Linked DNA regions of Homo sapiens. The protein of the gene in region 1 purifies or fractionates together with the protein of each later gene. This does not show direct contact. Each region holds a gene or a part of one and is shown on either strand. Other genes may lie near its edges.

The links.
Region 2: the proteins of TSFM (region 1) and REXO2 fractionate together in Homo sapiens (co-fractionation; one large-scale study listed by BioGRID). This does not show direct contact.

The regions. Positions count from the first base shown.
Region 1 is NC_000012.12:57,785,787-57,789,286, reverse strand, and holds part of TSFM (elongation factor Ts, mitochondrial isoform 2 precursor), read right to left. Parts: intron 3,125-3,500; coding exon 2,996-3,124; intron 2,248-2,995; coding exon 2,125-2,247; intron 1-2,124. UniProt on the Homo sapiens protein: Associates with the EF-Tu.GDP complex and induces the exchange of GDP to GTP. It remains bound to the aminoacyl-tRNA.EF-Tu.GTP complex up to the GTP hydrolysis stage on the ribosome.
Region 2 is NC_000011.10:114,442,467-114,445,966, reverse strand, and holds part of REXO2 (oligoribonuclease, mitochondrial precursor), read right to left. Parts: intron 2,112-3,500; coding exon 2,034-2,111; intron 1,427-2,033; coding exon 1,315-1,426; intron 1-1,314. UniProt on the Homo sapiens protein: 3'-to-5'exoribonuclease that preferentially degrades DNA and RNA oligonucleotides composed of only two nucleotides. Binds and degrades longer oligonucleotides with a lower affinity.

The sequences.
Region 1 (3,500 bases):
GATTTTTTTTAAACAGTGATGATGACCGGGTGCAGTGGCTCACGCCTGTAATCCCAGCACTTTGGGAGGCCCAGGTGGGCAGATCACCTGAGGTCAGGAGTCAAGACCAGCCTGGCCAACATGGTGAAACTCCCGTCTCTACAAAAATACAAAAAAAATTAGCCGGGCATGATGGCAGGTGCCTGTAATCCCAGCTACTTGGGAGGCTGAGGTGGAAGAATCGCTTGAACTGGGAGGGAGAGGTTGCAGTGAGCGAGATGGCACCATTGCACTCCAGCCTGGGTGACAGAGAGACTCCATCTCAAAAAAAAAAAAAAAAAAGGGCGATGATAACATGTATATAAAAAGTGATAGGGCCAGCTGTAGTGACCCAAGCCTATAATCCCAACACTTTGGGAGGCCAAAGCAGGTGGATTTCTTGAGCCCAGAGGTTTGAGACCAGCCTGGGCAAGATGGCAAGACTGTCTCTACAAAAAACTTAAAAATGAGCCTAGCATAGTGGTGTGCACATGTAGTCCCAGCTACTCAGGAGTCTGAGGTGGGAAGATCACTTGAGCCCAGGAATTTGAGGCAGCAGTGAACAATGATTGTGCCACTGCACTCCAGGCTGGGCAAGAAAGCCAGATCTGTCTCTTAAAGAAAAAAAGAAGTGATAAAGCAAATACAGCAAAATGTTAATAAATGGCAAATCTGGAAAAAGAGTACACTGGGGCCAGGCATGGTGGCTCACGCCTGTAATCCCAGCACTTTGGGAGGCGGAGGCGGGCGAATCACTTGAGGTCAGGAGTTCAAGACCAGCCTGGCCAACATGGTGAAACTCTGTCTTTACAAAAAATACAAATACTAGGCGTGTGTGGTGGCGGGCGCCTGTAGTCCCAGCTACTCGGGAGTCTGATGCAGAATTGCTTGAACCCAGGAGGTGGAGGTTGCAGTGAGCCAAGATTGCACCACTGCACTCCAGCCTGAGTGACAGAGCAAGACTTCATCTCAAAAAACAAAAACAAAAATAAAAAAAAAAAGGGTACACTGGTGTTTACTGGCAAAATCAAAGCTAAAATTTCTAGTTCAAGTGACTTACCTACTCAATACAATTAAAAAAAATAATCTCAACATTGTTTTCCATATGACTATGTAATGCCAATAATAATTAACATTTACCAAGACATCTCAAGAGAAGGATAAAGAAGATAAAAAAAGTTGGTAATAAACTCAAAAAAATTACTGTGAGTGGTTGGTTCATCTTTGCCTTGGCAATAAGGCTGAGTCAAAGGCAGAATGACATAATTCCTTTCCTTGATCCCTCTATGGATAAGAATATGCTTATTTTCCTAAACCATGTCTTTTCCAATCTCTCTCTCTTTTTTTTTTTCTGAGACGGAGTTTTGCTCTTATTGCCCGGGGGGAGTACAACGGCTCACTGCAGCCTCTACCTCCCGGGTTCAAGCGATTCTCCTGCTTCAACTTCCCAAGTAGCTGGGATTACAGGCAAGCGCCACCACGCCCAGCTAATTTTGTATTTTTAGTAGAGACGGGTTTCTCCATGTTGGTCAGGCTGGTCTTGAACTCTCGACTTCAGGTGATCTGCCTGCCTCGGCCTCCCAAAGTGCTGGGATTACAGGGGTGAGCCACCACACCTGGCTCCAATCTCTTTATTTAGAAATTCTTTCCTAAGACCATTCCAAATTTCTGAACACAAAGCCTCAAATGGCTTCACTTGATCTGGCTAACTCCATTTCACTGGCATGCATGCATTCAATCATTCATTCATTCATCTGACAAAGATTTACTGAGCTCCAACTAAGTAGTGGGCCCAATTCTCTTTCACCAGAGATACAACAGTGAAAAGACAAATTCCCTGCCTCATAAAGCTTACATTCTGCTGGGGAAGATAGACAACACACAGATAAATTAAAATGTAATATATAAGCACCATAATAAAAAATTTTAAATGCAGCATGACACGGGGATATAGCAACGGGGGAAGGGTAATTCTATGCAAAGAGATAGCATTTAAGCAGAGATGTGAAGTAACAGAATGAGACATGAGAATGTCTACAATAGGAACAGCAAAAGACCCAATGAGGACAGCAAATTCAGCACACTGGAGACAAATCCCAAACTTACTTTACTGTATGCAGAGGGTTGATCCTTTAGGGTCTGACAATGCATCATGGTTCCAAGGGCTACTTGCTGGACCAACAGTTGAAATTTTAAATTTCTAGAAACAAAATCTGTCTCACAGTTTACCTGTGGGAACAAATTGATATAGCTGTATAAGCTGTTTAATGATAATTTCCAAAAGTGCCTTAAGGCTGGAGAATAAATCAAGATACTGATAGAACAAGCTACAGACTCAACGGAAAAAAAATGACTCCAAAATTTTAAAGCTACGCTTCCTCTCCTAGCCTGGAACAGAATGAAGTGATTTATGTTGGGCCAGTGAGTTAGCAATAGCCTGTATATTCAGAAGATGGTTCAATAATGTCCTGAAGGACTCACCACAAGTTCACCACTTACCTATGTCTGCACACCATCATCACCTCATTCTCCAGCCATCCCAACTCCAAACCACTTATGCTATTATCTTGTTTATCCCCATCTCTCACTCTAAACTAATCCACATCTGACTCTTCACCAATTATGGCCCCCAAACCTCCTCTAAAATACCTACTCTCTATTCAGCAACAATTAATATAATTAACTTGTAATCTAACTGTTCCAGGAAACAATCAGTGACAAGGTGTAAGCCTGTGCCAGACTCACATTCAGGAGTAATATTCTAGACTGTCAGGCCATTTCTCATCAACACACCAGTACATTTCTATACTTAAACGAATTCGTAACTAATACCCAGGGTTTCATGAGTTTAACTTCAACTACGCTTTATGGTTCTTAAACAGATCTCTTCTTCAAGAACAGGCCCCTTTAGGGCCTACTACAAGCTTTACACCCAAGGGACAGCTGTTCTTGGTATCTGGAATTTCCAACAACTCACCTCTACTAATACAGTTGTGTTTCCTTCCTGCAACAGCCCAATCAGGCCTTCTTTGGTCTTCCTCCCTTGGAGCTTGGCAGCTTTGCTCCAGCCCTCCTTCTGGGCCTCCTTGTGGAGCCAGATCTCTGCCTGTAAATTGAGAGGAAAAAGAGCAGACAACAAAGTCACAGAATTTAGCACTAAATGTAGTTCTAAGATATACTCAGGTTTCCTGATTCTCTAAATTCTCTAACAGAAACTAAAGTAATCTATCATTTACTGGCAGTCTACCACTAAATGCCAAATACCAGGTATTATTATAACTGGTGCCTTGGATGAATCTAATCTTCACAACAACCCTATGGGGCACACAGTTGTATTTTCTTTATACAGTTACGCACCACATAACGATATTTTGGACAATGACGGACTGCATATATGATGACGGTCCCTAAGATTATAATGGAGCTGAAAAATTCCTATTGTCTAGTGACACGGTAGTCCTCCTAACATTGTAGGGCAACAT
Region 2 (3,500 bases), on another chromosome or scaffold:
GAAGCATACTGCATCTCTATATTTCTAGTATTATACAACAGGATATCAAAATTCATAAGTTGTATTTGAAATGGAGATGATTTTTTAAAATTCAAACAATTCCTAAAAGCACCTCTATATTTCTAAATCAGGTTTGGGTAAATGTGATTAGCTTACAAGTACAGATTTCCAAGTACTTAGTCAGTTTAGCTCCTTATAAATTTGTAAATGACCTCTCATGAACAGAAGGACAAATCTATCATTCCACATGCTTGATGTAATGCACAAATCTATTTGTTACTTTCTAAGGTCATACCTGATATGCAAACTTTCTCCCAGTGTCACAAAATTCACACCACTAACACTAAAAATTTAACTGAATCACATAGGTAGATAAACCTTTATTTACAATCCAAATTTTTAAACAAATCATATGCATATTTATGTCCCCAAAAAGTAACTTATACTAAAAACACTAAATTTTAAATGAGACCTTTAAAACAGATATCAGCCACATTGGCTGGCGGAAACATTTACACAATATATGCTCTAGTACTTAATGCCAAAACTTATTTTTATAAATGTTTAAGAACAGTATTAGCTACCACATCGACTTACATATACAAACGTACATATACCTTCAGAGAAACATTAACTTCCCTCTGGCAATGTCACCCTTTTAAAAATCCTGGTAGAACAGGCCTGGTCTCTTTAGAAAGTCAATGACACAGGGGAAAAATAATAGGTGGAAAGTTTTACATTAAGAGACTAAAGAAATATAACTAAATGAAATGCACGAGCCTTGACTGAATCCTGGTTCAAAAACAAATATTTTGGGGAACATCTAATGTGGACTAGATATCATATGATACTGAATAATGTTTAATTATCTTCAATGCAATGACATTGTATTACATAAGAAAATGTCTTTATCTTAGGAGATGTTTGATGAAGTATTTAGGAATGAAGTGTCCTGATGCCTGCAATTTCCTTTAAAATGTCCAACAAAAAATAGGTAAAACAAATACGACACAAGGTTAACAATTACTAAATCCACTCCTCTGTGCATGTGAAATTTTTCCATCATAAAAATATGGGAGAAATTCTTATTGAGTAAGTTTGTGTTTCCCAGATCTCATGTCAGGTTTCAGGGCATTTTCCCAATACTCATGCTATAAACTACACAGAGAAACTTGAACAGAAAAGTTAAGATGTGTAACCCAAAGCAGGGTTAAGTGGAAGACATGGATGGGCTCGGCTAGTCTTTCTGGAACTGCAGTCTCTTGAACCACTACATATGGAAGACTATAAGATATACACAGGATTGGATTTTACCTGCAAGTGGACAGAGCCCTGGAGGAGTCTGCTGTCGTACAAAGGACAGAAATTCATACTCTGCCTGCTGCAATGTAATTGTACTCTCCTTCACTGCCTTGGTAAGGCCAGACTGCAAGAGAGAATCCCCAGCCCCCCACCAAAAACACATGTAAAGTCAGTTTTCAAAGGCATCCAGAAATGAAATTTCACTTTTAAAATGGGCAAATATAACCACAAATAGACCATTTTTAGAGCTCAAGTTCAAATTGCAACTGCCATCTTTGCACCATTTTTTTTTCTTCAAGAATCCAAGCCAACTTAGTTATGATCCTGACTGTTAATAGCATGTCCACAGTCAAAAAAGACGGTGTTCAAAGTCCAAGGATATTAACCTCTGGGAAGAAACAACTATTAACAGGAGAGCAGCAATCCCCCTTCTCTGAAAGTTGATGTCTAACCTTATCCAAAAGACTGACTTGAGTAATACTTGACAATCCACAATGCGTTCGCGACAGACTGAATGTAGGAGAGAAAAAAAAGAGGACATTCAGGAGAAGATGATCTCGAGAGGTCCCAAAGATGAAAAGTAAACAAGCAAGCAGTTTCCCAGGCTTGCCATGCAATCTTCTCTAAGCCTTTTTAAAATACCATCCAACAATGGTATCGGATTCAGGTGTGGGAGCAAAAAGCTTGCTACTGATCCCCAAAGCAGCAATCCTGTTATTTGGTAATGTTACCTTCCCGTGATGCTCCTTACACCAATCTGACATGCTGTCCAGCAACTCATCTGGTTGTTTTATAATCAGGTTAGGACCCTGTGGATGGGAAACGCCATCAGTCACCAAGAAACAACAGGAATAACCTTACTTTCAGAGGGAAAGCTTAAGCTGTTTTAAGGACTAAATATACATATCAGAGAAAGTAAGAGATAAGGATACTTTAAGTGTTCCCCCTTCATTCCAGCACTGTTCATTAAGGCAAAATAGAACATACGAACATACACACACCACTGAAAACTCTAATCCTACAAATAGATGACACAGATATCTATCAAGGGTCAGCAAACTATGGCCCCACACTTCAGCTATTTATTAATAGCTAGAAAGCTAAGAATGATTTTTACATTTGTAAAAGATTGTTTAAAAAAAAAAAAGAACATATGACAAGAACATATGACTGCACTCAAAGCCTAAACAATTTAATAACTTGCTCTTTCCAGAAAAGTCTGTCAACCCTTGATTATGAGTTCATTTTGAAAAGTGTCTAGGCCAAGCATGGTAATCCCAGCACTCTGGGAGGCCGAGGTGGGAGGATCACTTGAGGCCAGTAGTTCAAGACCAGTCCAGGCAACATAGCAAGACCTCATTTCTACAAAATTAAAAAAAAAAAAAAAAAAATTAGGTGGGCCTGGTGGCACACCCCTACAGTCCTAGCTTCTCAGGAGGCTGAGGCAGGAAGATCACTTGAACCCAGGAGTTCGAGGTTACAGTGAGCTACATGCCACTGCACTCCAACCTGGGTGACAGGGTGAGACCCTATCTCTTAAAAAAAAAAAGTATCTATATTGCAGGTGAAAAAAACAATTGCAAAACCATGTATGTATAGGTATGATTTCATTTACACTTGTTTTAAAAAAAACACGCATTTATATAAACATACAAAATATCAAGACAATACATAAACTTGGAGTAAGAAGGAGCAATAGAACAGGACAAAAATCCAATAGTTCACTACACACATACTTTGGATAGTTACACTGTTTTAACAGTATTTTTATATTTAAAAAAAAATTAAAGAGGTAATTGTTGATATCCAAAACACAAAGTAGCCCTCAAATTCTCAGCTCCATTTCATAGAACATCCAAGTATGAGTCTCTCAGATAAGTCCTGGCAGTTAACAGTAGCTACGGCATTAAAGCAAGTCACCTCAGCTTCTCCCTCTGTAAGATAGTGATAATAATAAACTGTACCCCTTCCCTCATAGAAATGTTAACAGGATAAAAGAAATTATAGATATGAGCTCTTTGAACTCTCTGATAGAAAAGTATTCCATAAATCCAAGGTATTATTACTACTAAGGTGGTAAAAACAGTTCACAATCACTGAAAGAAATGGCTAGAATTTAATTAAAATACGCCTGACATCCTACTACTAAAAAGGAGATTTAGCCAAACAAGAAAACTGGTGTTGGTAATCTCTGCGAA